2 linked regions of the Homo sapiens genome follow. The protein of the gene in region 1 interacts with the protein of each later gene in a pairwise test. Each region holds a gene or a part of one and is shown on either strand. Other genes may lie near its edges.

Region 1 (3,824 bases):
AATAAATGTTGGTTTTTACATTATTCTTAACACCTTTGGAGGAGTTAGTGTTAGCCCAGTTGCAGAAGAGGAAACAGACTCGAAGATGGTGACTCATCCGCGACAACACAGCTAGCAGTGGCAGTACCGGGAATCAGATTTGTACCTATGGTTGTTTCTACTCCGACAGCTTCCAGTACCACACATACACTTATTTATTTATGAATGAATGATAAGGTCTTGCTCTGTTGCCCAGGCTGACATGCAGTAGCGCAATCATAGCTCACTGCAGCCTTGAACTCCTGAGCTCAGGCAGTCTTCCTGCCTCAGCCTCCTGAGTAGCTGGGAATACAGGTGTGCACCACTGTGCCCAGCTCAGTATTACAAATTTAAAATCGAGGATCTCCCACCCCTGGCTAGGGGTAGGCATCAAAAAATAATCTCCTCAACATCTGACTGTTGACAAACTCATCATCTCCAGAAATGCCCTGGGAGCCAGAGAGTCCCAACGCAAAGTGAAACCTGCAGTCTTCTGCAGTTTGGTTATTTTCTGCAGCTTCGGCTTGGAGGGATTGGGTGTGTACATAGGTGGGGACCCCTTCCAGACACTCTCCTTTCCCTTTCTAGTTTCTTCTCCGTAGGGGTCTTTAACTTGTTATATTTTCATTTGCCTGGTAATGGTGTCCCTTCCTGTTATTCCACACAGGGTGGAGGTCTTAGGGTACAAATTATAGAAAATAGAGAAATTATAAGTTTGAATCTTTGTTCCTCAATGCAGTCTAAGTCAAGGTAATTGACTAAATGCAATGGTGTTCTGGATATGCTCTTGCTTCTGTGCCATTTAAGATCTATTAATCTCTGTATCCCGTCTCCCTTTTGCTGAAGAAGCAAACTATTTTTGGTTTGGCTCTTCTGGCCTTGAATCTTACATTAGGTGGTCCTGTGCTCTAAGAAGCTTCCTGACATCCTGAGAGGTAATGTCTTCCCTCAGAAGCACTTCTTAAGTCTTTTTTCTAGTTTCAAGCATTGCTTGCAATGTCTGGCAGTGGCTGCTTGCTGCTTTTAAGCCTTTTCCAGCTGATTTGAGCCCTTCAGCCTGGTCGGCTTAACTCACATCTCTAAAAGCTTCTACTTTACCACAGGAGTTATCTAAGCATGCAGATTACTTATCGAGTTGGTTCTCATGCTAAACTTTTGAGACTTGGTCTTCACATTTGAGAACAGTGAGAACAACTTGTATTTTTCTTAGTCTTCCTGGGATGTTGTATAGTTAAGACCATGTACTGAAACAGGCTGCTGACAGTCTCATCAGATGTTGTGAGTGATCCAAATGCTTTATGATAGCTCTCCTTGGTGCTCCTGTTTCCTTTGAATGGAATTCCTACAGAAGAAAAAGGGAAGCAAATATCCCTCTCTTTTCCCAGGCTCTAACACTCTTCTTGGGTCCTCAGTGTAGCACCGTGGGAGAAGTTCTTGCCCTTTCAGCTCAGAAGACTCATTTTGAAGCCAAAACATGATGATAGATGCACCACTGGCATTTGCTGATCAAGAAAACTCATGTCTGCCTGGTATGGTGGCTTGTATCTGCAATTCCAGCTATTTTAGGAGGCTGAGGCGAGGGGATTGTTTGAGTTCAGAGTTTGAGATCAGCCTGAGCAACACAGTGAAACCCCATCTCTTTAAAAAAAAAAAAAAAAAAGAGAGAGAGAAATCTCACACCCACACATGGATTTGTAAGCACTCCATGGCCCCCAAGTTGGAAGTCCTTATTTATGGCATAGGACTTGATCTGGGCTCTATCACTAAGAAGCTGTATTGTGCTGGGCAGGGCTCTGGAGTCTTAGTTTCCTTGTATAAAACATCAGAAGTTTTGACAAACTGGGTGTCTATTAGATTTAGTCCTTGGCCATTCTAAGAGGAAAGAGCCCAGTTTCTGCATCTAAAACTCAACGTCTCTGCTATATATATCACAGAGGTCTTGACTGATAATATGTGCAAGACAGTAGTGCAGGCTGGGGTGAATGGGATGGATTTTCTGGTGAGCGCCATGGACCTGGGGTTCATTGTGAACGTACAATACAGAAGAAGCTGCTGAATTTTTTTTTTTTTTTGAGACAAGTCTGGCTCTGTCGCCCAGGCTGGAGTGCAGTGGTGCAATCTCGGCTCACTGCAAGCTCCGCCTCCAGGGTTCACACCATTCTCCTACCCTAGCCTCCTGAGTAGCTGGGACTACAGGCACTCCCCACCATGCCCGGCTAATATTTTTTGTATTTTTAGTAGAGATGGGGTTTCACCATGTTAGTCAGGATGGTGTCGATCCCCTGACCTCATGATCCTCCCACCTCGGCTTCCCAAAGTGCTGGGACTACAGGCATGAGCCACCGCGCCTGGCCAAGAAGCTGCTGACTGAGCAGAGATCCTGAGGGAAATCGAAGTCCCCAGATAGAATAGGGCCTTATAGCCACAGTCTCTCTTTGGCATATGATTTCTGTCTCAGCTTGGAAGCAGAACTTAATTTATTACACAAGGAACTGTGAAGAAAGATGGACCCCAGGTAGAAAGAGGAGAGATTGCTAGATTGAACTTAGAGTCCTTTATTTTTTAGCCTATATCTTCTTGAGTCAAAATTACTTTATTGGAGTCAGCTATTTTTCTATCCTTTCTCCTTATTTTCTCTCCTCCTAGAATGAAGTTACTGAAGGAGAGTGGATATAGGATATTGCATTGTCAGCAGTTTGTCCTCATTGGATAGGAGAAGGTTGAGAGATGACTGGAGATGTTGAGGGTGTCAGGGTTCAGTGCAGCTTGTATTAGGTTGCACCATGTAAAAGAGCTATTTTGTGGTTCTAAAATGGTTGGATATTGGTAGTTCACATAGTTGAACCTAATATCTGAGGATGTAAGATGGCCACCATAGTCTTGTTTCCCATGAGGAAACACCCTCCTGGGGAGTCTCTCTCTCTCTCATTCTAAGAGATCTTTGTCTATATGTGTGGAAGAATGTGATTTGTAGGGAAACCAGAAGAAGGTTATAGCCGTGTCTTGGGCTTGAATTTCAAGCTGGGGGTTGAGCATGTTGTATTTTAGGGAAACAGCATGCATTGTGGCCCACTGGTCAACTCGGCCTCATGGGTTTATTTTATGGTTTGAGGATTAGTTGCCAATCTGCCCACAGAGTGCTGTCTGTAAAAATGGGTTCCAAAAACTGGGTGATTAGGGTAGTGAGAAAGTCCACTGACCTTCTCACAGGTTCTGGAATCAGTTCAGATTCAGTTCAGTTCAGCTTTTTAATATTTGGGCACATACAGGTACTTAATAATAAATAATCTGTAATAAATAGAAGAATGCCCAAAGAAACAGCTTTGTGCACAGAGTGGGATTGACTGCCAAAGGGCCTCTGGAGGAGGGACATTCAGGAGCCCCGGACACACATTGTTGCCCTGTTGCCTTCAAATCAGCTTTGTTTGGGTGTGGAGGGCATTTTGTACACAGTGGCAACTGGATGGGATTTGTGGTCTGGGGAGGTTTTCTTTTCCAACCCTATTTGTTCCAGCACCCTGAAGGTTGGATGCTGGTAAGTGCATCTGCTGTGTCTTTTATGAGGTAATGTGCATACCAGGGTACTGGAGGGCAGTGGAGGAGAGGGAGAAGAAGGGGCAGAGGAGCAACTGTTGCAAAAGCCCCTGAGTGAGAGGGCGATTGTTGCGGTTATATCAATGTGCCCTGATATTCAGGTTTCTTTTGGACACCTGAATCTGGCCAATTTTAGTCCAATTTCCATTGTCCTGGGATTAGTCTTCATCATGTTAACTGCACCAGGAAAGGGGAGCTGTTGGTGGAGTCCT
Region 2 (3,824 bases), on another chromosome or scaffold:
GTTGTCAGTGCAATGTCCATTAAGGACACCCTAAGGAATTATTAGCCGTCACAGCATTTGTGCGACTGAATTATAAGTTATCATTAAATATACAGTAGGTAACACATTGCAAAAACTGTGCTTATTTTTAAATATATTTAACTGTTCATTTTTAAATAATTTTGGATTTACAAAAACATTGCAAAAAAAGTAAACATTCCTACCATTCACACATATTTCTCAAATGTTAACATCTTAGATAACCAGAATACAACTATCAAAATCAGGAAATTACATAATAGTGTTGTATCAGTGCTAGCCTAAAAAGCTTACTCAAATTGCATCAATTATCTCAATGCCCTATTTCAGATCCAGGATCATAAGCTATATTTCACTGTTGTCGCCCTGGTCTCTTTTACTCTCGAACAGTTCCTCACTCTCCTTGCTTTTCATGACCTTGACACTCTCAGAGAGCACTGGCCGGTGAATATACCTCCATCTGTGATGTTCGATGTTTCCTTATCATTAAATTCAACGTATGTATTTTTGGCAGAAATAAAACACAAGTGATGTACCCTGCACAGTTTATCAGGAAGCACACTGCTTCAAGTTGTTTTTGCCATGTTTCTCCACAGAAAAGTTATTATTTTTCCCTTTGTACTTAGTGCAAATATGTAAATATCCTGTTTCTCACCGCACTTTTCCCCACTAATGTTATCATCAATTAATTCCTCCCTACAACAATCATCACTGTGGTGTTTAATGGTGACTTTTTTATTTCTGCCATTCCTTCTACATTTATTAGCTGGAATTCTACTGTTAGAAAGAGGTTCCACACATGTATACATACGTGACTAACCTGCACGTTGTGCACATGTACCCTAAAACTTAAAAGTATAATAAAAAAATAAAAATAAAAAAAGAAAGAGGTTCCCTTCTCCCCCATTTCTTTATTCATTTGTTCATTTTTATCATGGATTATTAGTTTACTCTATAAGTTGAACCCATTACAGTAATTATTTAGTTTGTTGCTCAAATTGTCTTACATGTTTGGAGCTTGTATGGCAGTATCCTGTATCTTTGTCACATGTCCCCATCATTTTGTAAGCATTTCCTTAGTTTCTTGCACAACAAAATATCTCAGGCACATCTTTACTTGACTTGTTCCACCCGTCCTAAAATCAGGCATTTCTCTAGAGATTCCCATTCTTTTTACTGGAGAATGATATTTAAAAACCGAATTTTGAGCACGAGGTAAGTTAATTGGTTCTGTGGTGTCATTCCTTTTAAGCCCTCTCAGCAGGTATGGCTAGTAAATAAACGTATGTATACACACATGCATCTGTATCAACTTCTTTATCTGTTTACACATATGTGTGTGTACATACATATATCTATACACACTCACATATATATATGCATATACTCTTACACACACACACATATGAAACCTGAAGCTCATATTAATGTCTAATCCAATCCAATGCTATGAGGTTCATTGTAGCCTTTTTCCTTATTTGTAAACCCTTTCTCAGACAACAAGAAACCTAAAACAGCTGTGCTATTTACAGGCATCTTTCATAGCACTGAAACAAGCTTTTTATTTATTTTTTACCTCCACTCCCAAGATAAGTGTTAACTTTAATTCAAGTATTGATCTTTTGAATGTCCAAGTGACATTCAGTCCCAGCTATCCCCATTATATCAAATAATTATAAAATTCTCTAACTGTATTTGGAAGCAGTTGGTTAAAATTCCAATGATAGTGTAACTAGTCACATGTTAATGTAATTCCCATATGTTAATATTATTAAAGTTTCATATTAGAAATCCATTATTTGCCATAAAGGTGAAATGATGAAATTTATTTGCAAAAGTTATCTTTTGCCTATGTTCCTAGTGAAATTCGGATGACTGCAATTCAAGCAAAAGTCAGATCTGAAGTTAGCTGCAGGCCAGCTCAGAAGTGTACCTTAGTGACATTTAGGCAGTACTTTAAGCCTTAACTCTAAGATTTTTAACCTAAATTTTTTTATTACTGTTATTCTCTTGGAACACGTCTGGTTTACTGCTAAGGAAATTCTACAGAAGCTGCTTCTATTATATTTGTATGGAAGCACAGAGCAAACTTGAAACTTGTACTCTTAACCAGCGTTTCACCTTTCACCTCTGCGTGTAATCCTATCCATACATAAAGTGAAACCGATGACTTACACAGTCACAAGCTACTAGTCACATGACGTCTTACATCTGGGGGCAAATCTGGATTTACTATCTGAAAGATTAAATAGAGCCTAAAGGGGAATTTTGTCTATCATTTATAAAACTCCTCCACCAAAATGCACACTCGCATAAGCAGTTATACTTACTGCCCCTTTTTTTTTTTTCGTCTTTTTACAGCAAAGCTGGCAAGTAGAGCAAATCACCCAATAGGCATACAGAGCAGACAGAGGGCATGAGTGTCCAGAAGAACACGCCTGTAATCCTAGTGCTTTGGGAGGCTGAGGCAGGCAGATCACTCCAGCTCAGGAGTTTGAGTCCAGCCTGGGCAACACGGCAAAATTCTGTCTCTACTAAAAATGCAAAAAGTAGCTGGGCATGGTGGCACATGCCTGTGGTCCTAGCTTCTTGGGAGAATGAGGTGACTTCTCTATAAGAAGGCTTTCTTTCTGTGATTTTCTCCTTCGTGTCAGATTAAGTGCTCACATAGCACTCCTGGGCTTCATCTTTCTTCTATCACTATGTTTTATTTATGAAAGGAAATTTTAAGATGCTATATTTATTCAAACAATTAGCCTCTAGCTTAGGAGTGTACATTTCTGCCTGCAGTAGACAGTCTTTTTTTTCCCAGTGACTCCATCATTGCGCAATATTTTTGGAGCGGTCTCCTTTTGTGCAGTCTCTCATTGCTTCGCTTTTATCCCGCAGATCATCATTGGCATCAAGTAGTTTTTCACTCTAAGGGTAAGTTTCTAGTAGAGCTAAACCTAATCTGATTAGTAAATATCCAGAATGAGGTGGGTGATTTGGAGGAACAATCATACATACATACATATATAAAAACACCCGTAAACACACACAAGAAATCCACAGAACATAAACTAAAAGCTAGAACTGTGTTATGATTTCAACAAATTTATGGTATAATGTTTATCTGTCATCACAGAATTTTTCAAACATTTCATCATTCTTACATAAATCTGATTGTCACTAACCCCCTTATGTGAAAGTTCCAATGCACGTAACCCCCCCCCCAAACATTTTATATATGTATAATTTTCACCTTTTTTCTATATCTAGACTATTAAGATTTTTTTTTTTTTGAGATGGGGTCTCACTTTGTCACCCAGGCTGGAGTGCAGTGGCATGATCTCGGCTCACTGCAACCTCTGCCTCCCAGACTCAAGTGATCCTCCTGCCTTAGCCTCCCGAGAAGCTAGGACCACAGGCATGCACCACCATGCTCAGCTACTTTGTGTATTTTTGGCAGAGACAGGGTTTCGCCACGTTGCCCAGGCTGGTCTCGAACTCCCAGTTCAAGCGATCTGCCCGATCCATCTGCCTCGGCCTCCCAGACTGCTAGGATTACAGGCATGAGCCACCGTGCCTGGTCACTAGACTGTTAAGATTTTTGAAAGTCAACTGAGTGTTTTATTTTTTCCTTCAGAAAATATTTTATTCAGCTTTCCATAATAGACAAAAGAAAAAATTCTCACTCTACTGTTTATGAAGCATACCACAAATGTTGATACTTTCTGGCTGTTTCAAATCTTTCGTACACAGTTAACCTAAAACTCTTCAAACATCATCTGAATAAATCTCCTCTCTGATCTTTTCACATGGTC

The links.
Region 2: the proteins of LRMDA (region 1) and RAB32 interact in a two-hybrid assay, tested with the Homo sapiens proteins (one large-scale study listed by BioGRID).

The regions. Positions count from the first base shown.
Region 1 is NC_000010.11:75,434,397-75,438,220, forward strand, and holds part of LRMDA (leucine-rich melanocyte differentiation-associated protein), read left to right. Parts: intron 1-3,824. UniProt on the Homo sapiens protein: Required for melanocyte differentiation.
Region 2 is NC_000006.12:146,550,135-146,553,958, reverse strand, and holds part of RAB32 (ras-related protein Rab-32), read right to left. Parts: intron 1-3,824. UniProt on the Homo sapiens protein: The small GTPases Rab are key regulators of intracellular membrane trafficking, from the formation of transport vesicles to their fusion with membranes.